3 linked regions of the Homo sapiens genome follow. The protein of the gene in region 2 purifies or fractionates together with the protein of the main gene of each other region. This does not show direct contact. Each region holds a gene or a part of one and is shown on either strand. Other genes may lie near its edges.

Region 1 (10,720 bases), on a different chromosome or scaffold from region 2:
AAACTCAAGGAGAACTTAGGTTTCAGCCTAGCCCAGTCAGAATGTCTCACTTATGAATTATTAGTGGTAAATTTCACTGACTAAAGGACTCAATCAGAGTACATAAAAATTAATTCTTTTTTTGTTAAACTTTTTAAAGTCAGAAGTGAGGGTTCGGGAAAAAAAAGGAAAAACATTTCTACTGCTAATTTTATAAAGCTTAAAAATATGACCCAATTACTTGGTATTTGTGATAAAACACTTTTACTCCACCTTCAAAATATATCCGGAAATGAGTTATTTCTCATCTTTTCCTCTGCTATCAATCTGGCCCAAGGCACTATCATCTCTCGCCTGCATTACTACAGTAGCCTCATTACTGGTCTCCTCGCTTCCACCCTTGTCCTCCTACAACCTGTTCTCGAGTTTTCAAAATACAATTTTAGCTGCTGTACTAAGGCAGACCACGTCACTCCTTTGTTCAAAATTGCCAACATTTCTTCCCAGTATCCCTCAGAATAAAAGTCCTTATAAAGACTCCAAGGCCTTTCCCAACCCAGCTGTTATTTCCCTGGCCTCATCTCCTACCCACTCTTCCCCACCCCCGTCCTCCAACCTCCTGCCTCAACAACAGCTACCCTAGCACTGCCTCAGAGCCTTAGCACTTCAAAAGTTTGCTTTGCCTGGAACCACATTCCCCATGTGGCCACACAGCTCAATTCCTCTCCTCCTTCAGGGGTATGTTTAGTTACACCACCTTCAGTGTGTCATTCCCTAATCTCCACGTTGAAAATAACACTCCCTGCCCCTACTCAATTTTTCTCCATACAACTTTTCTGGTATGCTGTATATTCAATAGTTTACTTTTTGTTTACACGCTTTCCATTTGAATGTAATTTCCACAGGGGTGCAGATTTGTCATTTTCTCCCATTGCTATATGCCCTTGAACAAGCACAATGAATATCTGTCAAATTGTAATCTTTTCCAGAAAAATGTATATGGGTTTCGGTAAGTAATACAGTTACTTAACTTTCAACAATCATCTTACTGTATCAAGGTCATGGCAGAAATCAACTAAGCACTCCTCAGCTCGACCAATGAAGGTTTACAAAGAATAAGAAGGCCTGGGTCCTGACCTCTAGGGCTCGACTCAGCAATCCCTCAGACCTGTTTTTAGTCTCCTTTCCCTACCCTACCTGGAACTTTGCATTCCAGCAACACCCACCCGTATGTATTTGCTACTCAGAATTTGTTCTCTCATGTGCATGTGCCTTTGTTCATGCTATCTCTTCTCCTTCAAATGGAATAGCCAAAATTGAACAAGGCAAAGGGAAAGGAGTAATTCAAGTAGCTGAAGTATATGGGGGAATGTGCGGAAACTGCAGAAGAATCTGGAAGGAGGGTGGAATTCAATTACAGCGAGCCCTGAATGCCATATTAAAGCACGTGGCCTGCAGGCAATGGGAGGTCCCTAATGTGAGCAAATGTATAGCTTAGAAAAATAAAGTCATTATAATTAGTAAAACCAAATTGCAACTAATCAGAACTTAGTTAATGAACTAGCTGGTACTTTTAGCATAAAATCTGTTTGCTGCAGATTCTCTGTTCGCTTAAAAGAAAGAGAAACCAGTCTCGAGAATAAATTCTTATCAAGGACTTAGTTTAAAAGTAGGTGGGTATCACAACACACACCCACCACCCACCATTCCTGGAGATACTTGGGACTCCATTCAGGCTAAGACTGGTTTTGTGTACAGTTTCAGGCACAGTGGAAAATGATGCTCAAACCTGTTATAACCACAAAACATTTTCAAAAGGCTTTTACTACTAAAGGCCAAAAGGGGGGTTCTAGTTTAATTAGTGAATATAACTAACCAGGACAGATATTTCCTTGAACATTGTGGTAAATCAAAGTTTTGCTAGATAAGTTTCAAAGTTATACATAAAATATTCAAGAAATCTTTCTACTGATTAGGTTTTGAAGGAAGTAGCTCCAGCGAAATGGAAGTCACTTTGGCATCTGGAATTAGATACAACCAAAGTAATAAAGCCGTTTTATAACAGAAAGAGAAATATTTTCAGGTTGTACTAACTCCAATCTAAACTGAGAAATCTTTAAGTGGAAAAAAAGACTGAACAATCTTTGCCAACAATCTATGAATAAAGTGGAAGATGGCAAATAATTACATACACAACTTAATATTACGTTGAACACTTCATATTTTAATTCTGATTAATAACAAATTCAATCACTTTATTTTTCAATACAGATAGCAAAACTGACCTTTAAGAGTGAAAAATGTATATGATACACACAAACAGAATTGGCTGCTTGACGTGTCAGCTGGACACCTGAGTCCCTGCAAAGCCAGCCTTGGGGGCCTTTTCTTCCTCTACAGTTCTATGGCACTTTTTCAGTACAACCACAGTAATTTGTACAACTCTGTCTTATCTCATGCACAGCAGGCCTATGGTAGGCCTACTAAGGGCAGGAATTCTAAGTATTCCCTACACTTCCAACAGTACCTCATGTAAAGCTGGTTCAGAAAGGAGTTAACACAGAAGGCCAGACTGCTACCCTTAGGGAAGTGGTCTGGGAACTTGGGATTTCCGAGTGTCCCTACCATTTCCTAACTGGTAAGGGTGGTTTACTGGGCCTAAATTGTTTGTGCAAGCAATACGGTTCTTAATGAACACCTGAGCCTGGCGCGGTGGCTGACGCCTGTAATCCCAGCACTTTGAGAGGCCAAGGCGGGCAGATCACAAGGTCAGGAGATCAAGACCATCCTGGCTAACATGGTGAAACTCCGTCTCTACTAAAAAATACAAAAAATTAGCCGGGCATCATGGCGGGCGCCTGTAGTCCCAGCTACTTGGGAGGCTGAGGCAGGAGAATGGCATGAACCCGAGAGGCGGAGCTTGCAGTGAGCCAAGACCAAGCCACTGCACTCCAGCCTGGGCGACAGAGTGAGACTCCGTCTCAAAAAAAAAAAAAAAAAAATGAACACCTGATTTATTTCTGGGAGCTTAGAATTTTGGCAGAGGGTGTCTACATGACCAATCCAATAAAAACTCTGGGCACAGAGTCTTTAATGAGCTTTCCTGGTAGGTTACACATCATACACATCACAACTCAGTGCTAGAGGAATTAAGCGTGTTTGTGGAATAACACTGAGAGAGGACTCGGAAGCTTATACCCAGAGCGCTCCAGTCTGCTGCGGGTACTGCATGCACATCACCCTCTGCTGCTGCTGCTGCTTTGGATCCTTTAGCTGTAATGAATCACTGCCATGACTATGACTACATGATGAGCCCTGTGAGTCATTCTAGGGAATCACCAAACCTGGGAGTGGTCTTGGGGCCCACAACAATAAGTAAATATCATGTGGGTAACTCTCAAATTTATGTCTCCAGAAATCAAGTCTCTACTGAGCTTCAGACTATTTTATCCACCTGCCTATTTGGCATCACTCCTTGGAATATTCACTAGCCACCTCACACTCGGCCTGGCCAAAACAAAACTCGTGATTTCCTCCACCAAATCTTTTCCCCAATCTTCACTTCAGTAAAGGGCACCATCAGTCATTCCTTACATCAAAAACCTAGAAATCGTCTTTGATTTCTCTTTTCACTTACTACCAGCTCCCACTCAACGCCTATAAATCCTATCAGTTTTACACTGGAGAGGTGGGGATCCTCCCACGAAGGAAGCACTCAATAAATGGAAGCTATTAGTATCTTCCCATTGCTTCTGAGTCCTAGGCAATGTCACCTCTAGCCTGCATCACAGCAATATCCTCCAAACTCATGTCCCCGCCCCTCCCTTGGCCTTTACAATCCATCCCTCTACACTAAGCCATTTTTAAAGAGGGATGTTTTAAAAATGTATGTTGGAATATATTGGAATATATCATTCCCCTGGTTAAAACTCTTCAATGACATCCCATGAGAAAAAAATCCTAACTTCCAAGACTTACAGGGTGTATGTGACTGCTGCATGTCCACCTCTCGGACCTCATCTGGATATCACTTTTCCCTTTGTGCACTATATTCTAACCACACCAGCCTTCATTCTGTTTCTCTTAGAAGGCCAAGATGATCTCTGCCTTAAGTTTTTCTTAATAGCTGCTCCCGCTTCGCATGATTACCGCAAATGTCATTTCCTTAGAGGCCTTCCTGAACCACACTACCTGTGAGATCCTACTCTAGAACATCACTCCATTTTACTATGTCCATATTGTCCTGCTCTGAAAGTATCTTGCTCATTTAATTGTCTTTGCCTGCCTTGTTCACTGCTGCTCCCCCCGTGTCTGGATCCATACTTGGCACATAGAAGGCACTCCAATACATGTTGAATGAAAAATGACATGGACAGCTGTCTCCTCACTGGGAAGAAAACAAGGCACTTGTATGAAAAGCAAGTTTGCAGTCTGGTTAATTAAACTGCTATTCAAATCAAATCTATCCTATGAACTTGGCAGCTTTCTCTGACTTGAGAGTTTTTTTTACTGTTTGTTTGTTTTGGGTGTGGAGGTGTCTTTTATCATAAAAATATCCCTCATCAATTTAGTCAACAGTAATGGGTCAACTATCTTTGTTCATCAACTGACCACAGAAAAAGCACACAGAAAGTATATGTTAATTAGGCTACTCCTACTGTGGACGAGCTGCATCACGGTTGAAGCAGAACTGTTGGACTTTCTGTCCCAATAATGGGGTATAAGAAAGGAGATTGGAAACATGGGTATCCTGAATGTAATACCCAAGCAGAATCTTAAAAGAACCAGAATGCAAACAGAAAGGAATTCGGGCTATTTTATTGAGAAGGACCAGGTTTATCTTCCTCACACTGCCACTGAATCTGCCAAGACACCTAAAACCTGGCTAGTTTTTAAGGTGTTCCCAAGAAAAAAGGAATTTTTAACCCTGGTGTTGCCCACCCCCTTTTCCACCCCTTTCTATTTACTTTTTGGTTTCAGGACAGCTAAAGATTACAGATCGTTTGTCTGTTTGTAATTTAGAGACAGGGTCATGCTCTGTTGCTAAACCTGGAGTGCAGTGGTATGATTATAGCTCACTACAGCTTTGAACTCCTGGGCTCAAGCAATCCCCCTGCCTCAGCCTCCCAAGTAGCTAGGACTACAGGTGCACACCACCATGCCTGGCTAATTTTTAAAAAATTTTTTGTAGACACAGGGTCTCACTATGCTGCCCAGGCTGGAATTTTTTAATAACACTGTTATGTTTACTATCCCTACAAGAAATCATTCCAGCCAACTCCCTAGACCAAATCTCTTCCATAATGAGTTAACATTAATTAACTCATTTAACAAATATTTACTGAACGCCTACTGTGTCAGGGCAGACCATAATGTTGCCCAGCTCCTGGGACACCACTTACATGGAGGCTATATAAATGGTATTCCTTCAAGCTACATAACTCAGCAGCTCTGTGCCAGACACTTTACTAGGTGCCTGGAATATAGGAAAAAACAAATGATCCAATGAATGAGCAAATGTGGAACAGGCATTGTACTACATACTTTTAAACATATTGTCTGTCTTTACCCTCACAACTCTTATGAGGGGGAGTGGTATCCTCCCCCTTTAGCCAGTTAGGAAATTTGGGCTCAAAAAGTTAAGTAACACATCCAAGGTCACTCACATAGTGTCTGAGGCAGAGCTACCATCAATTTCTAAGCAACTGTGAACTAAATCTCATCAAAGCAAGAAAATCTGTCTATTTCAGATAGCTCCTCTAGTAGTCTGTTCTAAGCTTACTCTGTTATGAAGATTCAGTATTTTTTTCAAGTTAATAACACATTTTGCTACTTGCGCCCATGTTGATCAAAAGGTGAGCCAGTTATGTAACTTATCCACAAAAACCATCTTTTTCATCTCTAGAAAGCTAGGTGTCATTTCTTTCTCTTGGATTTCTAATTTTATTCCTTCAAACTTTTCAAATCCTGCAATGAAAGCAGGACTTCATTTCTCATTTAAGGCCTTTCACTATATTTTAGACCTAGTAACAATTTATGTTTAACCTACTAGTCTCCCATTCATGTTTCCCAATTCCTTTTGCAAATATCTGTTTATATATTTACTTATAAACATAATATTCTAATGAACGATAGTTTTTCTTTGCTTTTCCTGGGCACCTAATTTAAGCCCACAGAAAGCTTTTGTTTTTACATGAAGTAAAGTAATTTATAAAACTTTTAATCCAATGTATGCTTTCTATGGTATTAGTTGTATGAGTGCCACTCCTCTCTGCCACAAAACACAACAGCACCAGGCTTAATACAATATAGCCAGAGCAAACACCTACTTTCTACACTAATAATTACTATTATTGCAGTTACAGTAATGCCTACTATTTTTAGTAAACTAGACATCTAGAAATCCAGAAGGAAATAAAAAGGAAGGCATTTGGCAATTAATTTCTTGCTATTAAGTTATGTTACTAAAAGGTTCCCTTACTAGTTAGCTTTGTTTTTTGATCATAAGCTGATGAGACAACTCAACCAAACCAAGGAAAATACCATAACCAAGAAATAAATTCAAAAAATGAAAATGAATATATCTAGAAGAAAGATAATGCTAGGCTGAATCTCTCAAATGTATCAGAATGTTTACATGTCTCGATAGTTCTTGAGGGCTCAACAAAACATAAAACCACAATTCGGCCTCCACAACTCTCTGTAAAGTAGGAAGTTGTCAATTTACAAAGGCTATCACAGAAAAGGAAAGAACAAAAAGGTGGGAAAGGCAATGAATTTAAAAACAAATCCAAAAAACAGACAACATACCTGGCAACATGAGAAAAAGCATCCACAAGGACAGATTCAAATTCTCTAGTGAATTCAGGTCCTTTCCTTTTACTGTTTTGGATGACATCATTCGCTAAATACAGAAAAGTAAGCTTTCTATTTGATTTGGCTGAAAAAAAGAAAAGAAAAGAATTTAACTTACACCAAAGAAATTCTCAATTCACAATTCTTTTGCCCTGGGCTGCTCCTAAAAAAACATTAAGACAAGTATTATCTACCTGGGGGGTCAAGTAGATATGTTTAAAAAGACCACCTAAGGAATAGGTTTGGGAATACCATTTCGGAAAAAAAAAAAAGAAAAAGAAAAAGAATGGGCCATCTTCATTGCTGTGTTGTTTAAACCAGGGTAATTAATTGATAGTAAAAATTAAGATAATCCAAAGAGAATTCCTAAAGGATAAGCAGTCAGTGTTAATGTTGAAACTAGGGCTTTTATTTATTCTACTGCAAAAATGAGCAACTTCTAACTCACTTTTAATTATCAAATATTTCAGAATGAAAGACTGAGTTGGCCGGACGCAGTGGCTCATGCCTGTAATCTCAGCACTCTGGGAGGACGAGGTGGGTGGATCATTTGAGGTCAGGAGTTTGAGACCAGCCTGGCCAACATGGTGAAACCCTACCTCTACTAAAGATACAAAAATTAGCCGGGTGTGATGGTGGGCACCTGTAGTCCCAGCTACTCAGGAGGCTGAGGCAGGAGAATCGCTTGAACCCAGGAGGTGGAGGTTGCAGTGAGCCGAGATTGCACTACTGTACTCCAGCTTGGGCAATAGAGCAAGACTCTGTCTCAAAAAAAAAAAAAAAAGACTGAGTTAGGTTTCAATTTTAAAATGGTTTCGCCGAGCGTGGTGGCTCATGCCTGTCATCCCAGCACTTTTGGAGGCCGAGATGGACGGATCACCTGAGGTCGGGAGTTTGAGACCAGCCTGACCAACGTGGAGAAACCCCGTCTCTACTAAAAATACAAAATTTGCCTGGCGTGGTGGCACATGCCTGTAATCCCAGTTACTCAGGAGGCTGAGGTGGGAGAATCGCTTGAATCCGGGAGGTAGAGGTTGTGGTGAGCCTAGATCATGCTGTTGCACTCCAGCCTGGGCAACAAGAGCAAAACTCCGTCTCAAAAAAAAAAAAAAGGTTTCTTGTAATTTTGCTCCTAAACTGAGAATTTCTCTGATACTCCAATAACCATAATCAATAATATAGAAGAATCTCTAGGTGCACCAATAGATATTAGCTCAAATACAAGTATACATTAACACTACACTCTTATTGAAAATTTACACACGTGTGAAATCTAGATATGCAAAATTAGGGCTTTCACAAAAACCATAATTCTCTCTTATTTATATGAAATGTGGTTATTCCCTATTACTCTATATGGTATCATATATTAAACCATAAAAACCTCGTGCAATATGTCTGAGTTACAGTTGCTTTGGGGAACATTACTGAATTCCCTGGCTTCTATGCACATAATTTCTCAACTATAAAGTTACATCCCTACAATTTTTGGTTCCAATTTTCTTTTAAAAGAAATAAATAAGAACATAATTAGATGTTTCAAAACACAAAGTTTTCTCCAATGCTAAAGTACCTGAAAAACACAAGCTCTTTATCAACCTTAACACACCTGAGTAACTCTATTTCTCTCTGAAACCAGTTGTTTCTTTTGAAATGTACAAAGCATTGATATGTCTGACATAGCAGGCATAAGATCTGACATTTTAAAATGTAGCTACAGGAGGCTGGGCACAGTGGCTCACGCCTGTAATCCCAGCACTCCGGGAGGCCAAGGCAGGTGGATCACCTGAGGTCACGAGATCAAGGCCATCCTGGCTAACATGGTGAAACCTTGTCTCTACTAAAAATACAAAAAATTAGCCAGGCGTGGTGGCGGGCGCCTGTAGTCCCAGCTACTCAGGAGGCTGAGGCAGGACAATGGGGTGAGCCCAGGAGGCGGAGCTTGCAGTGAGCCGAGATCACACCACTGCACTCCAGTCTGGGTGACAGAGCAAGACTCTGTCTCAAAAAAAAAAAAAAAAAAAAAAAACAAAACAAAAAAAATCAGCCGGGCGTGGTGCCAGGCGCCTGTAAACCCAGCTACTTGGGAGGCTGAGGCAGGCGAATCACTTGAACCTGGGAGGCGGAGGTTGCAGTGAGCCGAGATCGCGCCAACTGCACTCCCACCTGGGTGACAGAGTAAGAGACTCCGTCTCAAAAAAAAAAAAAAAAATGTAGCTACAGGAGAGTAACCCAAGTTAAAAACATGATTTTAATAGCACATTACAGTTTAAACTGATGAAACTGATGTCTTAAATGCTCATAAAATTAAATATGGATACCCTGAATTGTCTTAACCTTCTGGTAATAACCTAGTTTAGATGGCCAACTGATAAGAATACTAGGAACCTGGAGCTTTCTTCAACTTTCTAATTATTATTCAAAAGCAGAACAAAAGTGTCAGTAGTTACAATATCTACTGTTGCTACAAAGGTATGATTATGGCAAAACGTGCTTTTTTGTTAAAGCAAACCTTGCTCTGCAAAGTTGATGTAAGTGAAACTACTACACCTATAATCCCATGCAAGTTAGCAGATTCGAAAGCAAAACAGAACTTCAACAAAGCAAATTTCATTAAGTGAAGCTTTAAAATTCCATACACTTTATGTTGAAAAAAAAAAAACCTAGAATCCATATTGTAAAATGTCAGTGTGGACATTCAAGACCTGATATATACTTCTCAGTAGACAAACAAGGTATCTAAGGGGCTTGAGACCCAAGGTTTTCACTGTTTACAATGCCAATTAATTTTCATCACCCCAGAACTTAACAATGGGGATTTATTTAGGATAAACTGTATCCCTCCATATTCAACATCCTCAACAGTCAACATAAGCACCATGTGTGTCAAGGTGATATGACAAAACCCTAGAGCTCTTGAGCACACACAGTCACAATACACACAACATGCACACCCCTCCATCCCAATCCTGGGGGACAACTCACTTGTTCAGATGTCCTTCCTATACGACAGAAATAGGTCCTTTCACTCACTACCCATGTCCATTCCAAACTGGTCAAACTAGTTGTTGAGTAAAATTTAAACAACTGGTTAATCAAAACTTTTCACTTGTTTGGCTGGTTTTGACATCTACAGAAAGTCTTAAAGTAATTCTGCAATAAAAGCCCATTACCTACATTCAGGCCAAGATACAAAACACCATTAAAAACATTCATTTAGGAGCACTTTACACCAAAACTAGTCCATAAAGAAGGGGAGACGTTCTACTTAGAACAGAGCTCAAATGGGATAAATTAAAAATTATTCCTAGAAAATGGAAAGACAACACATCAGGAATAGAAGTATTTAAGCAAGAAAAAAAGTTAATTTTTATAAATCTCATATATTTTGAAGGCAACTCAGAGACAGTCTGTGAGCATCTCAGCTACGGAAAATGACTTCACCCTAGGTAGAACCTACAGGGCTAATCAATCTGAACATTAGGGCACAGAATCCTTTTCTTTCAGTGTGGGGGCATTTTCAGTTCATGAAATAAGCCTGGATATTCGGAAGCTAGGTATTGATGCTTGGAAGAGCATCTTTTTTTAACTCTGCACTGTCCAGTAAGTTAGCCACTAGCCACGTGTGGCTATTGGAACACCTGAATTGCAGCTGGTAAAAACTGGAAACTAAATTTTCAATTCTATCTACTTAAAACTTTAGTTCCTTAGTCACACATTTTAAGTGCTCCATAGCCACATATACCAAGCGGCTACCTGTTGGATGGCACAGATAGAAAACATTGCTATTATCACAGAAAATTGTATTAGATAGCGCTGTTTATATCCTTTATGCTGCTATCATAGAAAGTTGTATTGGATAGCGCTGTTTAGATCCTTTACTCAA
Region 2 (10,720 bases):
ATCTAACTGATCAAAACAGTTGTACCAATAAATGATTATACCAATAAATGTATGAAATCCCCTACTAAGGAGATATTTTTTAGAAAGGAAATTTTATTAAAAAAATAAATCCATAAGTTTGCTACATAAAAGAGATAAACTTAAAGCATAATGGACAGAGGCTAAATACCAAAGCTTTAGCTCAGATTATGTCAACCAAATGTGAATGAAAAGAGAGGTTTGGCAATATTAACAATAAAATAGGATTTATGGTAAATGAATTATGGCATAAGGATCATTTTCATATAGATAATTGACACATTTACTAGTGAAGAGATTAACTATCAATTATCATAACAACAAAGTGCATGAGGCAAAAATAGAACTATAAGTAGAACTCTGTAGGCACATGGTTTGGGGGCGATTTTCACAGGTTAGTAGACAGGAACATGAACCATATGAATAGAATAATTAAAGTCAGAATTTAAGTGTCAGTGAAGGATATACAAAAATTGGTCCTATATCAGGTGAAAAAATAATTCAAATTTAAAAGAAAGAAAATGTCACAGGTTTCATGTATTCATCGCTCAGTCATTATCTCTGGTTTTAACCATCTAAGAATAGACCCAAGTCGCCAATATGGAGAGCAAAGCTTCAGCTGTATTATTGAGGCCCCAGGGAGCATCACTACTAACAAATAGGGCTCCCTTCTAAGGTTAGGTTGGAGAGTGCCTGGGAAGTCAGTCCACAGTGGTTGCCTCCTATTGTTTCTTTCCATATGTGGACCTTGGACCTGCCTGTAGGTCCTGAATTGGATTTGCAAATCTGCATGGCAGGTTGCAGCCTGCCTAGCAAAACTGGGTATTTATAAATGAAAAGCCACAGAGATAAGGGTATCCTGACTTAACATCTGGAAGTAAGGCTCTGTGTGCCGTTCTGGGTGTGCTGAAACACCGGAAGCCAGGAGGAGGCCTGAATCTTTTTAGGGATCCACAGAGTAGGCAGCAAGGCAGAGCCTGCTTTCTTTTTGAGGCATAGGAACTCTACCAGTGGATTTCAGCCTTTCACCTTGTCTTCATTTGTGGAAGAGTGATTAAAGAGTCACGTGTGAACAAAGATAGTTTTATTTCTTCTTTTCTAATCAGTATACCCTTTATTTCCTTTTCTTGTGCGATTGCATTAGGTTGGGCTTTCAGTATGGTGTGGAAAAAACTGGGGATATCCTTTTTTTTTTTCCTGAGCAGGCATCTTTTAAGATGCTGGTACTTTGAAAATTCTAATCTCAAACCTTAAACTAGATTGTTCTCTAAAGAAAAGGTATTTCTTAGGTCCTTTATCCAGACAATGCAGATGCTGTATATAGGACCCTTAGTTGTTGATTGACTGTCTTCCTGTGACTGGAGACCACGGTGGTAAGTGGTTTTTCTCTGTGGGTTGATGCGAGTTAAGTCAGTGTGTGTATGTTTACCATTAATCTAGGATAATAAAAATCTTGTTTTGGCAGGTTGTGGCTCAAGAATTTCTTTCATTTGTGAGCAGCTGTCACTTAACAGCAGTGAGTAGCTGAAATAAAATTTTATTGTTGGCATAGTTGTGACAGGCAGCTGGAGCTTGCATTTTCTTGTCCCTAATTTTATCTTGTTTTACACCTGCAAAATTAAGAAAGAAAGCTATAGCATGTAGTACAATTCATATTGGTGTAGACCTGAACATGGGCTTTGGAGCCAGACCGCTTGGATTTAAATCCCCACCTCACTTGTTCCCTGTGTGATATCTCTGCTTCATTACCCTTTTCTGTAAAATGAGGAAATTTTGTAGGATACTGGATTAAGTTTAGTAATACACGTGTAAAGAAGTTTGAACAGTACCTGTCACAGAAATCAATAATCGTTGTTATTAATAACATGAACATTTGGTCTTCTTTCAGAATTGAGCACTTCGCCAGAATCTACAGTCAAAAAATTGGCATCAAAAAGGAAGTTCTTATGAAAACCTTGTGGGGAGATTACTATATAAATATGAAGGCTAAAAAGATCATGAAGGGTGATCAGGTAATGTGGTATATGTCCCTTTTGGTTGTTGGTCATATTCTTGCCCTATGAAAACCTATACTGTAATATCTTTAATAAATGTAATTCAGCTTTAATTTATGCAGGTGAGTTCATGAGGGATTTTTTACTGTATATAATTGGGAAAGGCTTACAAGTCCATATACAGGTATTATTCATACAGAATTCTTAGTCCTTTTAAGTATAGTGAGCAAAGAACTGCCTTTTCTTTTCTTTCTTTTCTTTTTTTTTCAGAAGACCAAAAATCTTAGATCTTGGGCACCTGAAGACACACATTTTGTGCTGTGCATTTGTTTGTCCCTGTCACCATAAAGAGATGTCTCTTCTAGACATCCCTGTATGGTTCACACTGTCTTTCTAGTGTCAGCTGAGGCCTTATCTCACTGCATGCTGGTCATCGTGCAGTGTAGATCGGGAGAGGTGGGTGCTCCCTGAAACCCCTTCTATAGATAGAGGTGGTGTAGGAATGCTGTCATATACCCTCAAAGGATACTTTTCTTGGAGCTTTGTGTTTTTAATGTTAAAACCAGGATTTCATAAATTTATTCTCATTGAAAATCATATACATTGCTTTGAGAAAATATTCACAAGTATAAAGCCACAGTAAACAAAAAAATCAAAGCCAGCACTGCTAGTAGATGTTTATAATTTCTTTCATCCTTTTTACATAGATATATACATCCCTCAGTTGAGATATGCTGTTTATACAACGTAGCTGCCCTTTTGCTTTTGTCATATCATGAACATCTTCCCTTGCCATTAAAAGCTTTTTTATAAACAATATATTTTAAAGGGAGTGAATATAGCTAAGTGGGAAAGAGCATGCCTTGAGAGTTGACTCTGTGTTTGAATTTTGGCTCCACCACTTATTGGCTCTATGACTTTTATCTCAGTTATTTCATCTGTAAAATTGAGATAATAGCACTTATCTCATAGGATAGTTATGATTCTATGAAATAATTCAGTAAGCACCCTGTTATTTTATTTTGTGAGAGCACTATCATTTATGAATCATTCTCTTAAGATTGGACATAGTTTTTTCAAATGTTTTGATATTGTAGAGTTATGATAGACATCTTTGTGCATAAGTTTTATGTCTTCATGATGCTTTTTTTTAAAACTGAGCATTCTAAGCCAATGACTTTTAATTTCTTAATACTGTTGCCAGTAGTTCTTCAGAAAGGAGGTATCAATTTATTAATATATCCCATCTCGTGTATGGAAGAGTATACCCCTCAAGGTGCTCTTGCTATTAACTTTTTGCATAGTTTGTTAAGAGTAATGATGGGGTTTTTTGGGTTTTCAAAATTTTCCTATCCTTGTGAACCTTTAGAAATATGTTTAAGAATGCTTTATGTTTCTTGTAACATAATTTTAGACTGAAGTCCATGGAAAGAGCCCGCATGTGCAGAGTGAAGTTTTAGCTCTTGGCTTGTGTGCTGTGTGTATTTGTTTGATGGCAGCCATGGTAATATGACCCACAAATGGTCATATCACTTGTAAAGTCTATGGTTCCCAGAGGAAAGAACAGTGGATTATTATTGATTGTGGATTATTGACTGTTTAGTGCATTCTTATAACTACTTTCATCTACTTTATTTTTGAATAAATATTTTCAAGTAGAAATGAAACATATTGATAATAAAAGCATGTCAAGAAGGAATATATAAATGCCTATTAAATGTTCAGGAACTTAAGCCCGTATGTTCTTTTGTACAGGCCAAAGGAAAGAAACCTTTATTTGTACAGTTGATCCTGGAAAATATATGGAGTTTGTATGATGCTGTTTTGAAAAAGTAAGACTCTTATTGTTTACCTTTAGGCATCTTTAGGCAGTATAATTTGTCTCACTTTCCAGTTTGATGAGTCATATTTCAGAAAGCTGAGATTTTCTGAGAAAATGAACAGAGCTTCTACAGATGAGTTGATTACAGGGCTTGGAAGCAATTTAAAGAAGCCTATGTAACCCAGCTAAAGGGTGATGTTGGAGGGACAGGATAGCAATATTTTATAGAGTGCTGAGGAGAAGAGATGAAAGGATAGAAAGAAACATTGGGTCTTTGTTTATGCAAACCCACTTTTAAAAAATAGTTATTAAAGTAGAAAAGGTGCTTGATAGCTAGGATCATTAATGGGGAAGTTGAGAAATAACTTTTCTGGTATAAGTTTGCTTTAGTAAATTTGCTTTCTAAGTTATTCCTGAGATGGAATAATGACTTGTTAGCACTTATTTGTAAGACTGCTTTACCACTTGGTATAGCTTGCTTGAGGAGATGGTGGAGAAGTACTTCCTGGGAAATCTTAAAGAAGGATTCACTTGAAAGTGTAAGAGTAGAGGTTGGGGAGGCCCCTTGTGTGGCGGCAGGATTCCCTTCAATCATTTTTAGCTTTTTTTGAAAAAGTAACACATTAGGGTAAAAATATGCCAAATAATGTTGGGTTCCACTGCCTGTTTATATCTGCATATGACATTTCCCCTCTCCAATCTTGTGTTTACCACAGGGACAAAGACAAAATTGATAAAATAGTGACTTCTTTAGGATTAAAAATTGGAGCCCGGGAGGCACGACATTCAGACCCTAAAGTTCAGATCAACGCCATTTGCAGTCAGTGGCTACCCATATCCCATGCTGTTCTTGGTATCCTTTATTCTAATGGTTTTTAATGAAATAGTTTTGATAAAGCTAGAAAAAACAATGCGTTATGGTAACCAAGAAATTCTCTGGAAATAACATTCAATCCAAAATAAGTCTTCTCTGCTTATTTAGTGTTCTACCATGAAACTGTATTAAATACTTTGATAATTAATACACTAATACTAATTTGTGTTAACATTACTAATAGTGAACTTCTTTAGGAAGACTATTCTTTTTGTGTTTGTTTAGTAATCTATAAAAATAAAAATGTTTACACTAAGATTCAAATATAAGTAGATGATTTAGATGTTTGTGTTAGATAACTGTTTCATTTCAAGGTCACCTGTAGCCAACCTGCTAAGCTCTGTTCTCATTTGTTTCATGGGCCTCAGTGTTAAAGTATCTGTCATGAGGATCCTTTCTGAGCTTTAAGGAGTTTGTGAACTCCCTGAAATTGTATGCATGTTTTGAGATGTGATGCATAAAGCAGTGTTGCCTTGTAGCACAGGCATTTTCTGTATGGACAGACTTTGTTACCTCAATATTTAGTGCATACAGTGAATCTTCGCCTTGGTGGGAGGCACTGGCTCAAGGTTTTCAGTCCTTAACAATAGACTTCAGCTATGGTGTGTCAGAAACTTCCTAGTCCCCTTGATATTACAGCTGAGAGAGTGGAGAGACTGATGTGCACAGGATCACAAACTTTTGACTCTTTTCCACCAGAAACTCAAGCACTGAAAGCAGGTGAGGAAAGATGGACCTGTTGGAATATACCATGTCATTGACTGTCCTCCATCCAGGCTGCTCTAGACCAGTTTGCTGAACGCTAGTTTGCTAAATGGCCAATTTGCCAAATGTCCACTTCCACAGATGAACAGTTTCACAAATGACCATTTCACCAGTTTTGCCTCCCACCCTCACCCCAAAGGTTTTCTTGTTACAGCCATTTTGCTCAGGCAGTAGGGTGAGACCAGCGACTTGTACACATGCTCCTCGTGAGAAAAGAAGCTCCCATTCTGGGCTTTGTAGGTTCCATGAAATTTGTCTCCACGTATTTTCTTATCTCTAATTCTTTTCCTCCAGTTCTATTGGTTTTGTAACCCTGCCCCCAAACCACTACACTGTTATTCTTGGCATCACTATTGACTTTCGGTTCATTAAATCTAATGGCCAGTTTTCAGTCTTCACAGGACTAGATCTGTCACTAGCATTTGACGCAATTGATCACTCCTCCTTGAAACACTTTCGTCCCTTGACTTTTAGGCTTCCATTGCTTTCATTCCCTTGCTTCTGCTTTTCTTCGTGTCTCCCTGGCTGCTTATCCTTAATATCTCTTTTTGTGATTCCTCCCCATCTCCCTGGCTTTTTAACTTTGGGGTGCCTCAAGCAAGGTTCAAGTCTTTGATCCTCATCTGTTTTATCTGTAGTCCCTCTTTTGATAATTGTACCCAATCTCAAGACTTTAAATGACAGCTACATACTCATAATTCCCACGATTATGTGTCTTCAGAGCATGTCTGTTTTCTGGACTCTGGACTGATATCTAGAACTCCCTCTACACTGTGTTGTCTAAGAAGCATCTCAACTGAACATATCCCCAACTGGACTTTTTATCTTATCCCCAAGCCTGCTCACCTAGTCATTCCCATCTCAGTTAGGGAGACCTCAATCTTTTCATTTACTCAGTCCAAAAACCTTGGAGTCATCTATGGCCCTTATATTTATCTCACACTCCAACATCCAGTCCATCAGCAAATCCTGTTTATTCTTCCTTTGAAATACAGAATTCAACTATTTCCCAATGTTTTCACTTCCTGGCCAACATGGTGAAACTCCGTCTCTACTAAAAATACAAAAACTAACTGGGCGTGGTGGTACACGCTTGTAGTCCCTGCTACTCGGGAGGCTGAGGCAGGAGGATCGCTTGAACCTGGGAGGCGGAGGTTGCAGTGAGCCGAGATAACGCCACTGCACTCCAGCCTGGGCGACGGAACAAGACTCCATCTGAAAAAACAAACAAACAAACAACAACAACAACAATGAAACAACTAGTATCCCTGCTTCTGCTCTTGATTCCTGTTAGTGTTTTCTCAACTATTGCAGACAAAACAGAGTGATCCTCTTAAGATATAAATCAGGGCATGTCATTCTGTTCCTCATTCAAAGCTTCCACTGGCAAGACTTCTGATACATGTTTGATTCTTACTTCCTGTGGTTTTCTTTTTTCTTGTTTGTATTTTACTGTTGAATTCTTTATATATAAATTATTTTAACGTGAGGTGATGGAATTGTTTTAAAAAAATTCATTAATCAATGTTTTTTTACCTCCAGTATAGGTTAAGGAAAATGTTCATATGTTAATATGAAATTGCATTAAAATTTGTGTATTTAGGGAGAATTGGTATCTTAATAGTATTGAATCTTAATTTATTTCTAAGAATTTGTTAATATCATAATACAGTATTTTTGTCCATTTTATTTTCTAACTTGTTATTGTGGGGGATTGGGAAAGCTATTGATTTTTATGTATCTTATTAACAAGCTACCTTGTTGATTGTTGGCCTTTGGTAACATTCCTCAATTCTATTTTCTATACTTGATACAGTGAAAAATGTATTAGTGCTTATGGTAGGTGGTTAACCTCATTGCATAGCTTTAGCTTTCATATGAGATCCCTCACCCTGTCAAATTTGCTTGCTTTTCTTTTCTTATTTCTGCCAACTGTTTGCTCTTGCTCTGCTATTCTTTCCTAGCAATCTTACCCTTTTCTAATTAAAATTTTTATCATAGTTGGAAAAAGTTATGGACTTCTGGTGTATTTTGATGATGCCATCCATGTTCTAAACATTTTAATTGTTTTCCAGAAAAATCTGTTTTTTTTTTTTAATAATGGGAAAAATAGTGACATTTTTACTTCCTATTTGTTTAGCTTTTATGAAATGTGGAAGTGAGGACACTGCTCCAGTTATTATATTTGTTTCCAAAATGTTTGCAGTTGATGCTAAGGCCTTGCCTCAGAATAAGCCAAGGTAAGGGAAAGGGGAAAGTTGGGCTGGGCTAGGAATATGGTGTATGTTTGGTGGGATGCAGTTGGGCTGTGGGTAGGGGGGGCACGGATAATGCTTTTCCTCCTCAACCCAGAATTCATATCAAGCCAACCCCCAGGGTAACATACAATTTATACAGTAGTATATCCTTTTGTGATACCTCTGTAGGAGAAAGTTGTTGAAATCAGCTCTGGAATATTGAATTGAAGTGATGTAAGTTTGAAGAGTATGTTAGCAGTAGTAGCAACAATTAACTTTTATTAAACATGTCAGGCAAGTTCTAATCTAAGTCTGCCTTGTCTCATCTAATTCTGCCTACCTCAGTAGAGATTATGAATGTATGAGGATCTCTGCTTCCCTGTGTGTATTATGTGTGCACAGGTGTGATAGGTGTAGGAGAGGGATATTCCTCAAGTTCCAGAGTCTTGGGGAATCTGTGTCTTCTACATTTCCTGTTTTTTATGTGTGTTCCCCTCCTTCTGTCTCTGCTGCTTTCCCCACTAGTTTAGATTCTGATCATCTCTTGTGGATATTGTTGCAGCAACCTCCTAGCTGGTTCTCCTGCCCCATCTTTAGTTCCACTGATCCACTTGCCATTCTTTCTTTAGAGTGATCTTTATAAGACTCAGCTATGAAGATATGTCTCTTGCTCAAAAACCCTTAATGATCCTCACTGTCTTGAGCAGTTTTGATTCAAGTGTAAAGTGTTGGCGATGATTTCAGTGGTACTTAGGGAAACAAGTTTTAATATAATTAGTTGTCATATTTATTTTAATGTGTATTTGTGTGTATTGCCTGTGTATGTCAAGTGATAAAGCCTTTACCATGATGAGATTTTAAAGTTTTATTGAGTTAAAAATGTTTGTGCATTTAAATAAGTATTAAATAATAATATGCAGATATAGCAGAAATCATGAAAATGATATGTGAGTGACTGAAGGTCAGATCATCAGCCCGTGAAATAAACTTGACCTGTCTTAGTGGCATTTCTGACCCACCATGACCTGACCCCAAACCATGTTTCGACTAGATTTTTATTTCTGTTTCTCTAATATACTAGTGTCTGAACAAATGTCCTATCTGTACTTGTGCTGTTCCTCCATCTGAGAAGGCTTCTTTTCCTCTGATAAAATTCTGTTTGTCCTTCAGGGGAAAGGTTATGCTTTGTTTTTTAGTACTTCCCTAGTGATTTGGACATTAAGTGTATTCAATAATTTTTGTCCTGGGGATAAGTAAAGGAATAGATGGGTGAGTAAATGAAGAATGAATGAGTGAATATCCAAATGGGGGAATAACAGGTCAGTGAATGGGTGAATGAGTGGCTAACTGAGTAAGTAAGTGAGTGAATAATGGAATGAATGAATGTCTAATTATGTATCTAGGCTACTCCCAGATAATATTTCAGTGCTACATGTAGTAACAATTTCTTGTAGTAACAAATGTAGGATATTGGATGTTTTTTGGCCATTGGGAGTATCTGAGAGATTCTGGTAGAATCATAGGGAATATCAGAGAATTGGAAAACTTGCTGTTAAGATTTGAAATACATGTATTTATAGCATTTAAAATTCCTAGCTCTACCCATCCTTCATTTCTTGCTGATGAATAATAGTATTATTATGCCTCTACTGTTAATTACATTTTCTGTGAATGTTTTTCCTAATAATTCATCATATGCTTTTCTGATTTTAGTATATTTCTGATAGTGCAATCCATTCTATTCCATGAAGTTTTTTTACTGATTTTATTTTTGTCATTGTTTTTTAACCAGTATATCAGGTTCAACAATTGTTACATAATAATATAGTGTTTTCAGGTATACCTGGGCAAGGTCATCACCATTACTTTGTTCTTTTCCATCTTCTAGCTGATTTTTTTTTTTCATTTAAGTTTTATTTTTTAAATTTGGGAAAATGTACCATTGGAAGTTGGTTTGATAGCATTTTCATCTCCATTGTATTAGACATACAAGCCAGGAATAGCAGAGTATTATTTTCCTTTAGTATAGAGTACAATGTATTAGTGATATGTGCCAGGGAGAAAAGTAAGGCAGGAAACAGGATTCGGCGCCCACAAAGCCTAAAAAATTTTTTCCCTAACTTAGTGAAGACACTGACCTTTACTCACTGCTCAACAGTGCCACTGTGGTTGTAAATGAAGTGTGGGACTGTTACAGGACTTTCTCCTCTGTTCTTGTGTTCTTGCCTCTTTTCTTTGCTTCTTCAAATTCACCTTCCAACCTGACATTTGAATCTTCGGTCAACATTCTCACCTCTGGTCTCCTTCATCTCAGTATTAGTAACTATTGCCCCTTCAAGAAGTAACATCCATGGTTAGTTTAACTATAGCCTAAATAACTTAACACTCACAACTGTTTCCTCACTAGTAGGGCCCCATTTTCTTGTAATTAAATTTCTTTGTTCTCAACAAATGCTGGATACACAGTGGGTACTTTTTACACATCCTTGCTGATTACTATCTGCTTTGTTCCCCGCTACCATCATTCCCAGTGCCCAGCAGTGTGTGGCACACAGTAGTTGTTAACTGGATGGATGGATAGATACATAGATAGACAGCAGGCATCTATACAGTTGATGCTTACTTAATGACTGTACATGCTGATTATTCCAGATCACTTCATGAACTTAGACAGATGAGGATTTAATCTGCAAGTGAACAAATACACTTCTTTTTTCACTAAAACTAAAGTGAAATCACATTTACATAAGATGACAATTTTATCTTTAATTCCTCTTGAAGGAAAGACATAACCTGGTGATAATGAGCATAGACTTCAGAGCCATACAGATCTGGATTTGAATTATGGCTCCTCCATTTAATATCTGTGTGACTTTGGGTCGAGTTACTTAAGTTTCCAGTCTCCCTTTTCTTATATGTAGAATAGGAATACGATATCTACTTCATTTAATTGTTGTGATAAATTATGTGCTATAATATATGTAAAGTGATTAACAGTCTCTGGATCATA
Region 3 (10,720 bases), on a different chromosome or scaffold from region 2:
CCCAGCAAAAGAAACACTAGACCCAGCTTGGCCAAAGAAACAAAATAAAACAAGTGATTTCTAACACGCTAAAAGAGTACATTTTCATCAGCTCCAAAGAAAGCAGTCCTGGTCATTCAGAAGGCTCCTATGATCCCACCAGTCTGCAGTCATTAGAAATATATGCTTTACAGGCCACAGGCTGCTCTGGATTTGGTTTCAGACACCAGTGACCAGAAGAAGCCAGTTTTGCGTGTGAGGGGTGTGGGCCCCCGCTGCCTTGGGCCTGCTCACCGGGGTGGATGGACCCCCGCCGGGTCACAGCCTGCTGTCACGTCTGGACTGTTGGCCTCTTCTGCATCTGGGCTGTTGGGCTCTCCTGCTCTCTGTCCCTCAGTCACGTCATTGTCTGGCTGTCCGGTGCTGGCTGCACTCTCATTTGTGAGGATAACCCCTTCCTTCTTCTTTTCTCCCAATACCTCCAGCCCCATCATCCTGAGATAATGAAGCCGTTCATTCTTGGGCACAAAAGTTCGAATGGAGGCCTTTCCCCGCCATCCGCATAAGACGATGGGACACTGCAGAGCGTCTGGATTCCTACAAGTGAAAGTGGCTTCATGTAGAACATTAAACATTCCCATAACTAAATCGAATGAGATGTAATATGCAACTGCTTAAAAAAGAAAACCACAGAAAACCCATACCCACAAAACCCCCAAAACTACTGGGAGGACATTTCATCTGGATCCGAGGGGTAGGTTTTCTCAAAGGACTTCCTTCTTCATGTCCTGAGTAAAATTCTCACCCTCGCTTTCGCCCTGCCTCTTTAAGTTCACAATGGAGTAGAGGCCCCAAATCTACAGATTTCACATACACTTTCTACATACTTCCTTCTCAAACTTAACTTACTGTCCCCGCCACCCCGTGTCACCTCACCCCACTAAATGAGAAGCGTTTCTCCACAGGCTCCCTGCAGCTCACCTCAAGTTTCCTAAGTGGACTGAAGCTCCTGAGAGGCTGGGAGACTCTGCCCTTAGCAGGGCGTCAGAGCAGGACCCAGGACCACCGGGAGACTCTGCCCTTAGCAGGGCTGCCAGAGCAGAACCCAGGACCACTCATCCTTTTGATACTCAGTGTTAGCGTGATTTCTTCTCCAGGGACCCCACATGGCAGTCTGAGCCCTGCTGGGCACACAGTGCTCATTTCCGTTCCCAGCATGCAGTGTTACCCACAGTCAAAAACATCCCTGCCTCTCTGAACATGCTCCGAGCCTCCCTACCTTCCAGGCTCCACCTGTCCAGCCAGGAGGCATCGACGCCCCAGCAGAGATGGACGCCACCATTTCCAACCTGCACACGCCCTCTCTCAACTTATCTGATTTCTTTCATACGGGACTCTGACCTAGATTTTAGGCTCCTAACGGCCGTGTTTAATCACCTTTCCATTTTTCCTAATGTAAAGCAGGGGCACAAAGGTGGTTTTAAGAAGTGAGAGGAAAATATAAGAAATTCCCAACTCCCATCTTCTTAAAAAAAAAAAACCATTATTCCTGAAGTTGACCTGTCACCTGTGTATTTCACCAAGTAGAAACAAGTGTTTAAATATGGAAAAGTGAATCCACACCTTAAAATATCCCAATATTTTCTATGTGGGCCACATGGGACTGTTATTTTAAAAACCATTTCTGAGTCTTTGTTCAAACTCTCGTTAAAAACACCCAGAAGCCATCAATCACTAGATGCTCCTGCCCGTTCACCATCCAGACACCATCCGCCTCCAGCAGGTCCCCAGGGTGCTCATGCGCTCGGCCTCGCTGACCTCTCCAGCCCATCCATCTGTTGTTCCCTCACCAAGTTCCTGCCCCTCCCACCTCAGCCCCCACCTGTCCTCTCTCCACATGGCAGCCGGACAGCCTGAACCCTGAGGACATGTGGCCCCTCGGCCTCCCTGCCAACCTCTTACCTATCCCTCCTCCTTCCCTACTTGGCTGGGCCCGCCCCGACCCCCAGCTTGCACCTGCCTCAGGATCTGCGCTTTGGTGGTTCCTTCAAGTTAGCACTGGATCCCTGGTCCAACACTAACTTCCCAAAGAAATCTGTACAGTGGTTCTACCTATTCACTCCCCCAAATCCCAGTCAGCCGTGGACCCCATTCTGTTTCCTCCTCTCAGAAATGGTGTTGCATGTCACCAAGACGGAGCTGTTGCAGGTGAGATCCGAATTCTGCCACTCGTGAGCTGAGGAGCTCTGGGCAAGCCACCTAACTTTCTGTCCCGGCTTCCTCCTCTGGCAAGTGCTGCCAAAACCAGCACCTGCTCCCCCAAGGCCCCCCACAAGGATGCAGCGTGAATACATGCAAGCAGCGTGGAGCAGTGGTCCCGTGGGGACCGTGAGTGCAAGCGTGAGCAAATCCCATGCTCCGGCCCTAGCACTCCTGATGCAGTAACATGTCAGCAACACACATGGCTGAACCAGCCATGAGGACAAAAGAACGGAACCTCACTCAACTGTCCAATCTTCACACTTACTCTGTACAAGACAGAAATTTTCATTGGTTTCTAATGCTTAAAAAATAAGTACTATGCATTTTATTCTCTGTAAGTAAAAATTCACTTAGCCTGAGCTGAGTGTTCTATGAAACAGCATCTTCATGATGACCTACAGGAATATTTTGGTTCTGAAGTTTTCACAAGGCTACTTCTGAGGAACAATCACAAAAGGCCTGAAGAAGGTTCCCACCTTCCCAAGTCACTTTCCTCACCAACGAGAACACTGTAGCTAATGACAAGGCGTGTGTGTCTAAGGGCAGGGCGTGTACTGACTTACGCAGAATCTGGTTCATACTTCAGCACGATGCTTCCCTTTGCTGGAAAAGAAACAGACACACATTTGCCAGGTTTTCCAGGTAGTGGATGCATGCGCTGAGCACATTTCTGCACCTAGTGATGTGTTAAGTATTCTGAAGAAAGAAAACAACAAATAATCTACATTCTTGGCTTCAAGGATCTAGATGGTGAAAAGAGGCCGTCTGGATACATGAACCAAGTCCAAATGACGCAGTAGGGACGATCTGGAAGAGGACCCAGGCAAAAGCCATTCAGGGACTTCAAGGGATGTCACCTGACAATCCACTCTGAGAAGCAAGGAGGCTGGGGATTAACTGCTGGTTAATTCTTCAAAATTCAAAATTAAATAAACTATAACACCAACTCCCAGAATGGCATGAAATACATAAAAATTGTCTAAAACAATACTGCAATCATCTAAGTGCAGGATTAAAAGAAAACCAGTATAAACAGGTCCTTTATCCTTTACAAGAATCTCTACTTTAAATTGTGGTTCTTGCCTGGAGACGGCAGTGGGAGACAGACTCCACAGAGCATGTTTTATATCCCAAAGGAACCACACGAGTAAGTTTTAAACGCAAGTAAGAAACGTAACTGCAAGAAGTGATTCACGTACTTTTGATCAAATTGAGCCAAAAATATTAAACAGCAAGTTATTTAAAAAAATAAACAAGAATGAAGACAACAGAAAGAAAATTAGAACAGCTTGGAGAAATGATTTTTATGCTTAGGGGAAAACGTCACTGGAGTGATCTGAAGTGGAAGTTGATGAAATATAAAAGCAGCAATATGACCAATAATCTACTCCAGCTGGCTAGCAGAAAAGTCAGAACTGCTGGCAAGACTCTTATTTTGCTCTAACACAGGTGATTAAAATCTGCATGTTAGCCAGTCTCGTGAGGCTGTGTACCTTAAAAAACAAATTTACTGGCTGGGCGCGGTGGCCCACGCCTGTAATCCCAGCACTTTGGGAGGCTGAGACAGGCAGATCACAAGGTCAGGAGATTGAGACCATCCTGGCTAACACGGTGAAACCCCGTCTCTACTAAAAATACAAAAAATTAGCTGGGCGTGGTGGCGGGTGCTTGTAGTCCCAGCTACTTGGGAGGCTGGGGCAGGAGAATGGCTGAACCTGGGAGGCGGAGCTTGCAGTGAGCCGAGATCGTGCCACTGTACTCCAGCCTGGGTGACAGAGCGAGACTCTGTCTCAAAACAAAAAAAGAAAAAAACAAATTTGCTCATGCACAGAGACCTGCTTCCACCCACCCCCGACCTGCTGACAGGCAAGTGGGTCAAGAGCTCTGGCTGGGAGGCTTGCCAGGGCTGCTCACAGGCTGACCCCTCCTCTCCCCGGACTCTCTGGCCCAGCAAGGTGAGCAAAGGCCAGCCCTGCACGCCACACAGACACACCACAGGCTGCTGGGCAGCAGCAGGGCACCACCAGAGCCTGGGGAAGTACACCAACCCCAAGATGCCTTTGACCCTTAGCATTCTGAACTGTCAATCAGGGATCTACAGAACCCTCTGGAAATTGATGTAGCCATAAATAAACTGAAAACTATGATTGATAAATATGCCCCAACGCACACCACCTGCATTTTTGCTGGCCTTATAAAGGGAATACAAGTTATGTCTCTATGCATTTCCAACTACTCACCCAGGTCCTTTGCTTGACTGTAGGTCTCACTGCTGAGTTTTCTAAAAAAGGGATTTTCCTGGGTCAACAGTATCTTAACATCTTCCATTGATACAGTAATAATTCTTGAGTTAATAAATGGATACAATGTATATATTCCCTGTGTGAATAAAGAGAATGAGAGAACAGATACCATGATGTCATTCATGAACGACAACAGCCTGCTCTCAGGGGCTATGCTCTTAGCGGCTATGGTGGTCGAGCCCTCACTATGGCCCCTCCCCTTGGACAGGTGTGGAACCCACCCCCCCCTAGGAGGGGAAACCAGCACTCTGGGAGAGCTCTATAACCTGTGAGGGTCAAGTGGCTGGTAGGTGCCAGCCAAGCCCTGAGCCACTCAGACCATCTGGCTGACCAGCAAGCCCATCTACTCCCGACTGCTTCAGTCATCTGTGGCTACTGCTGTTCAAATCCACTTCCAAAATTACCTCCTGTGCCAGCCGGAAAGCACAGTCAAACTCTTCACCGCTGTTATTTCTACACCAGACTTTGATCCCCGTGTTAATAACCTGTAAGTAAAAAAATAAGATGAAACACAGAGAGATGAAGACAGGACCATCTCCTGTAAGGATGCCGGGCCACATGGAGCAACCGTCACGGAATGGGAAAGGAGAGGAGAAGCAGAAACCCACCGAGAAACCCCGGTTAAGAACGAACTGATACTCACAACTTGTGATTACGTCGTTTGGAGGACAGTAAAGCAAATGAAAGAAGGGCCCCCAAATGGCCAAATTCTAAGGGAAGTACCTCAAAGGACAAATCCCAAGGGTCGGGGCAGCAGTACTCGCAGCCTCTACACCTTTAGTACCTTCTCTGCCCAGGAGGGCGAGCTGTGAGAACTACACCATGGCTCACCCCCCTGCGGGAATGGGGCACAGAAAAGACACAGGCCACCAGATTCAGGACTCTGGCAGGAACCATTCAGCCCTGTGTCAGTCAACAGCTCTGAAATCAAAGGGCAGGCTCAGGGACCCACAGCCAGCGCTACAGGTGGGGAGGGCAGATGTCACGGTCTGCTCCAAATGAAATCTAAGCCGCTGTGAAAAGCCACACGCATCCCGCATCACACAGCACTCAGCGTCTGTGCGGCTGGCACCTTCATCTTCTCACTGTTATTCAGCAGCACATTCCGCAACTCCTTAGAAACCATGTAGAGCTGCCTTTTCTTCCCTTCTGTAGTCCGAGTTAACAAATTCATCCTTGGGAATGAAGGATCCAAAGCATAAAATTTCCTGTACATAACAACATTGTTGTTTATCCACAATGAGTTCAAAATCTGGTAGACTGTTTCTAAACATCTTATTCTCCTCCTCCAGAATTCAATCCCCAAAACTGCAGTGTGGTTCAAGGGCACTGGGCTCTGCTCTGGACTCCAGCTTCTAAACTTCATCCACTTCCACCTGAAACCTCCACGTAACATTTATTTGGGGCACAACTCCATCAGAAACCTAAATTAACAAGTGCAGCTTCTCTCCCTCAGCCGCTACTCCAATGATAATGACCTGATAACACTACTTTTGAGACTTTTTTTTTTTTTTTGATATGGAGTCTTGCTCTGTCTTCCAAGCTGGAGTGCAGTGGCGCAGTCTCAGCTCACTGCAACCTCTGCCTCCCGGGTTGAAGCGGTTCTCCTGCCTCAGCCTGAGTAGCTGTGATTATAGGTGCACGCCACCACACCTAATTTTTTTTTGTATTTTTAGTAAAGACGGGGTTTCACCACATTGGTCAGACTGGTCTCAAACTCCTAACCTCATGATCTGCCTGCCTCAGCCTCCCCAAGTGCTGGGATGTGCCCGGCTGAGACTTATTTTTTAATAGACTTTTACAAATGTATGCAAAGGACCAGTTATTAAAAAAGACAGTAAGTGACCGCCCTGGTAAATAGATTCTAAAATTCAATGAATAAGAAACAGATGAATGTCAGACTTGTCCTAAACCCTTTTCCTCTATATTCTGTCTATGTCATCCCTAATTAGCCCTCACCCATGCTGCTCTTCATTTCTTCTACAGAAACTGAACTAGACAACCTTGGCTACTCGTCTATATACTCAATTGAGTAATTTAGGTTCAGGATCACAACTAATTTAGATTCATAATCACAGTCCAGTTTTCTTTTGTTTTTTTTGAGACGGAGTCTCGCTCTGTCGCCCAGGCTGGAGTGCAGCGGCGCGATCTCGGCTCACTGCAAGCTCCACCTCCCAGGTTCACGCCATTCTCCTGCCTCAGCCTCCAGAGTAGCTGGGACTACAGGTGCCCGCCACCACGCCCGGCTAATTTTTTTTGTATTTTTAGTAGAGACGGGGTTTCACCGTGTCAGCCAGGATGGTCTCAATCTCCTGACCTCGTGCTCCGCCCGTCTCGGCCTCCCAAAGTGCTGGGATTACAGCCGTGAGCCACCGCGCCCGGTCCAGTTTTTTTTTATCTATCATGTTCACAAAGTAAAAGTTTACTTTCTCCTTAAATTAAAAGATTGAGTAACCTCTAAAGTTTCATCCTGCTCTAATATGCAGTTAAAAAGGTTAAAAAAAAAAAAAAAGCTAGACAGAACTACATACAAAACAATGGTTACATGTGATCAGTTGTACATTTGATACTCTATAGTAAATTTCTTTAAATGAATAATTAAAAAGGCTGAATCCTTACTCAATAGGTGGAAATAATGGGTCATCTTCAGGAATAAATACAAATGGATCTTCTTTAAATCCAAATAACTTCATTTTCTTTGATGGAGGAGGACTAAAAAGGGAATCAGGATGAGACAAATCAATCTGTAATGTGTGGTAACCTTCAATACCAAAAGCACATTCTTCCTTTCTGTCAGTTCTGTGCAACATGGAACGGTTTGCGGCAGATGTTGAAACCTTCCGGCTTCCACAGAGTCCAGCCCTCACACTGCATGTGCCTGATACCACACATGTACTGCCCCCTCAAACCGACCAAGAAGTGGCTCTGGGATCCCATTTAATCCAAAAGGACTGTGAAGACACCAGCGTATTAGATCAAGACATAACCACTTTTCTTACCCACACACGCCATCTTTCTTACTGCCATTATTCTCTAAATCCTCAGTTGCATGAGCTATTTCTGTGTCACCAGTTCCTGTGAATGACGGACTTTCCAGCTTAGAGGGATCTGTGGGTTTCCCTTCTGTGAGATCTGCAGGGCTCAGCTGTGTGCTTTCTCTGGTCTCTGCAGATTTACCCTGAAGCTGTCATAAAGAACAATTTCATTGACACACAAAGAGGAGCATTCTTTGTGCTGCTACGAAAAGTTAAAAATACCACGTTCACAAAATCCATCAGTTATATTTTTCTACAGCATTATATGTAGAGAAAGACAACAGAATTTTTTTAAAGTGTCATTTTAAATCTACTTGCTATTATAAACAAAATTCATGGACAGTTTCTTTGGAGTTAAAGCTGATTCTACCTTAATCCCACAAAGAGCATATACAGCCTGTTCCTTAGCAGAGGCCTACACCACCAGCTTGTTCTCGTGTAAAAATGCTTATCGTGCATCTGCTCTGGGTAAGGCACACTGAAGGACACAAAGTGCACCAAGCACGATTTCTAAAATACCCGGCAGGGGCAAAAAGACAAGTATATAAATAACGAGAAAGGAGGGTATGAATTGTTCTTGGGCACCTGGACAAACTGCCACAGGAACTGGGAGAAAGAGAGAGTGCCCCAGGCACCAAGGAAACACCTGCCAAAGAATGAACTTCTGAATTAGGGCCATGGTATAATTTAAATTTGGCTTTGGGAATGAGCAAAATGTTTTACTTAAAGATCTTTAAAAAATACATGTCCTTTTTAACATTTTAACAGGTCACAAAATTGATAAAAGTCGTAATTCCTCAGTCCCTATGAAGTAAGTTTAAAAATTAGGATATTTCAACACAGGCAAGTTCATTTTACTCAGAGCCACAAAGCTACTGAGCAGAGAAGCCGGGAGCATCCCAGGGAACACCTTTTATTTCCATGTTAATATAATGTAAAAAAGCAAAAACCAAAACAGATGAACCCCAAGCCTGTGAGCAAGTCAGTGAGGGCACACGCCCTTCCTGTCCAACCTCAGCTTCCCCCAGAGGGGCCTTCTTGTTGAGTCCAGCTCCAAGGGCATGTTCTCCCATCTCTGTTCTACCTCAACAACCTCATTCTGGGACCTTCAAATACCAAGGTCAGTGTGAGCTTCCCTGGCCTAACTTCTAGCCAAGTGCTTACAGGCCTCAGCACCACAACAGAACACGGCATCCTGACCATGGAGACTCTACCTGCGTTCCCAGTAGGACCAACAGCAGCACAGGCCATGCTAGCACTAGATCTGTTGAACTAAGTGAATAAGAAACTGACATAGTAACAGAAAGAGAGAAGTATTCATATTATTTAAACGAGAAAATGACAATAAGTTGTTCTAAAAAGTAAGACTATACATAAGGGGCTAATTGAAAAAATGTCAAAACCTTTCTATGTAAGTATTAACACGTCAGAAACATCAATGTAAGCCCTAATGCAGGCCAACCTAAAGCACGCGTCTCTAAGACAGGCTCCTCTGTGACTGCACTGTGCTCTGCAGCTGGGCAGCCACAAGCCTGTGGTCACTGACCACTTAAAATGTGACAAGCGCAAAGTCTAAAACACAAGCTACTGAAACCTAGTATGAATGAATGCAAAGTATCTAATACTTTACAATATAATTTCTTATACTGATTCCATGAAAATAACATTCCATCAGCGTTAAGATACCTTGTGAGACTTTTAGCCTCAAAGTGAAATACTTTCTAACCTGACAGAAAAACCCTGGTGGCGGCAGAAGTGCAGTCGCCCCCTTTGCCCGTCTGAGGCTGTACGTTCCAACGTTAAACTGCACAAACCGTGCCCCAGAAAAAGGCTGGAGCTCTTTGCGGAACTGTTTCCTTTTTGTTCCTCCAAAGCTAAGCGTTTTTTGTCCTAATTTTCAAGCATGGATCTTAAAGAAATACAGACTTCCAGACTTTGATTCCAGGCCAGGTTCTTTCATCATGGAAGGCTGATTTATGAACTAATAAATAATGCTGGCGTGATACAGGTGAGACAGCACGCATTACAAAGGACTGCGTGTTAGGATGAGGGCAACACTCCTTCACCACTGTTTCCTGGCCTGCCTTGGAAAGGAACCAGCAGGCAGTTTAGATCCATAGCAAACAGGCCGGGCTGCATCTTTCTAGCCAGGTCTGGACAAGGCCGTCATCATTCCTTGCAGCCAAGGTGAACCCGGGCTGGCTTGGGGTCAGCAGAGCTCTGCTATCTGTAATTGGTGAAATGAACCACTCACAAGGAACTAGAGCACAGAAACCTGGGGCTTCCAATTGAGAGCCACAGAGCAATCTTTCATGTCTTTTCAATTTTTATTAAATAACTGGATTTACAGTGTGGCAGGAATACATTCCCCCAAACACTGACTTCTCCACTTACCTATCACCTATGAGAAATTTCTGCTTTTTGGAAAACTTGATATTTAAATGAAATTCCCCCTCATTCAGGGTCAGCTCTCCTGCTGCCCACAGCAAGAAGCTCCTCTTTCCTCTGTACTTCTACTAAACTCCGGTTAGTTTTTGTCTTAAATGTACAAGATCAAATGTTATGTCATTTTGGAAAAAGAAAAACTCACCTTTGGCTGACGTTTATTCCACGGCATTGAAGATTTTTTCACCAATACTGCCACAAAAAACCCTCCAGTATTCTGATGATGGGGTAATATCCTAAGGCTAAATATATATATATAATTCACACCTCTGAACTAATCAAAAATGCATTCTTTTACTATTAAGACAAATACCGCAAAGATGATACAAGAGAAAAATCATGTCTTCGACCCTCACTCATAGAATGGCCAATATGTAAACTTAAATTTTTTTTTTTTTTTTGAGTCAAGGTCTGGATCTGTTGCCTAGGCTGGAGTGCAGTGGTGTGATCTCAACCCACTGTAGCCTCCGCCTCCTGGGCTCAGGAGATCCTCCTGCCTCAGCCTCCCAAGGAGCTGGGACTACAGGCATGCAACACACTGCCTGGCCAGTTTTTGTATTTTTCTTTTTTTTTTTCTGTAGAGATGGGGTCTTGCCATGTCGTCCAGGCTGGTCTCAAACTTTTGAGCTCAAGTGATCCATCAGCCTTGGCCTCCCAAAGTGCTGGGGATTACAGGATTGGGCCACTGCACCTGGC

Evidence for each region.
Region 1: the proteins of EFL1 (region 2) and RPRD1B fractionate together in Homo sapiens (co-fractionation; 2 studies listed by BioGRID). This does not show direct contact.
Region 3: the proteins of EFL1 (region 2) and NSUN2 fractionate together in Homo sapiens (co-fractionation; 2 studies listed by BioGRID). This does not show direct contact.

Annotation. Positions count from the first base shown.
Region 1 is NC_000020.11:38,036,634-38,047,353, reverse strand, and holds part of RPRD1B (regulation of nuclear pre-mRNA domain-containing protein 1B), read right to left. Parts: intron 9,896-10,720; exon of another isoform or gene 9,247-9,895; intron 6,920-9,246; coding exon 6,790-6,919; intron 1-6,789. UniProt on the Homo sapiens protein: Interacts with phosphorylated C-terminal heptapeptide repeat domain (CTD) of the largest RNA polymerase II subunit POLR2A, and participates in dephosphorylation of the CTD by RPAP2. Transcriptional regulator which enhances expression of CCND1.
Region 2 is NC_000015.10:82,222,158-82,232,877, reverse strand, and holds part of EFL1 (elongation factor-like GTPase 1), read left to right. Parts: intron 1-1,906; coding exon 1,907-2,030; intron 2,031-3,767; coding exon 3,768-3,844; intron 3,845-4,550; coding exon 4,551-4,687; intron 4,688-5,305; coding exon 5,306-5,428; intron 5,429-7,613; coding exon 7,614-7,713; intron 7,714-10,720. UniProt on the Homo sapiens protein: GTPase involved in the biogenesis of the 60S ribosomal subunit and translational activation of ribosomes.
Region 3 is NC_000005.10:6,599,657-6,610,376, forward strand, and holds part of NSUN2 (RNA cytosine C(5)-methyltransferase NSUN2), read right to left. Parts: intron 10,267-10,720; coding exon 10,170-10,266; intron 7,729-10,169; coding exon 7,544-7,728; intron 7,257-7,543; coding exon 7,164-7,256; intron 5,753-7,163; coding exon 5,617-5,752; intron 5,030-5,616; coding exon 4,949-5,029; intron 4,621-4,948; coding exon 4,482-4,620; intron 2,845-4,481; coding exon 2,805-2,844; intron 577-2,804; coding exon 270-576; 3' UTR 1-269. UniProt on the Homo sapiens protein: RNA cytosine C(5)-methyltransferase that methylates cytosine to 5-methylcytosine (m5C) in various RNAs, such as tRNAs, mRNAs and some long non-coding RNAs (lncRNAs).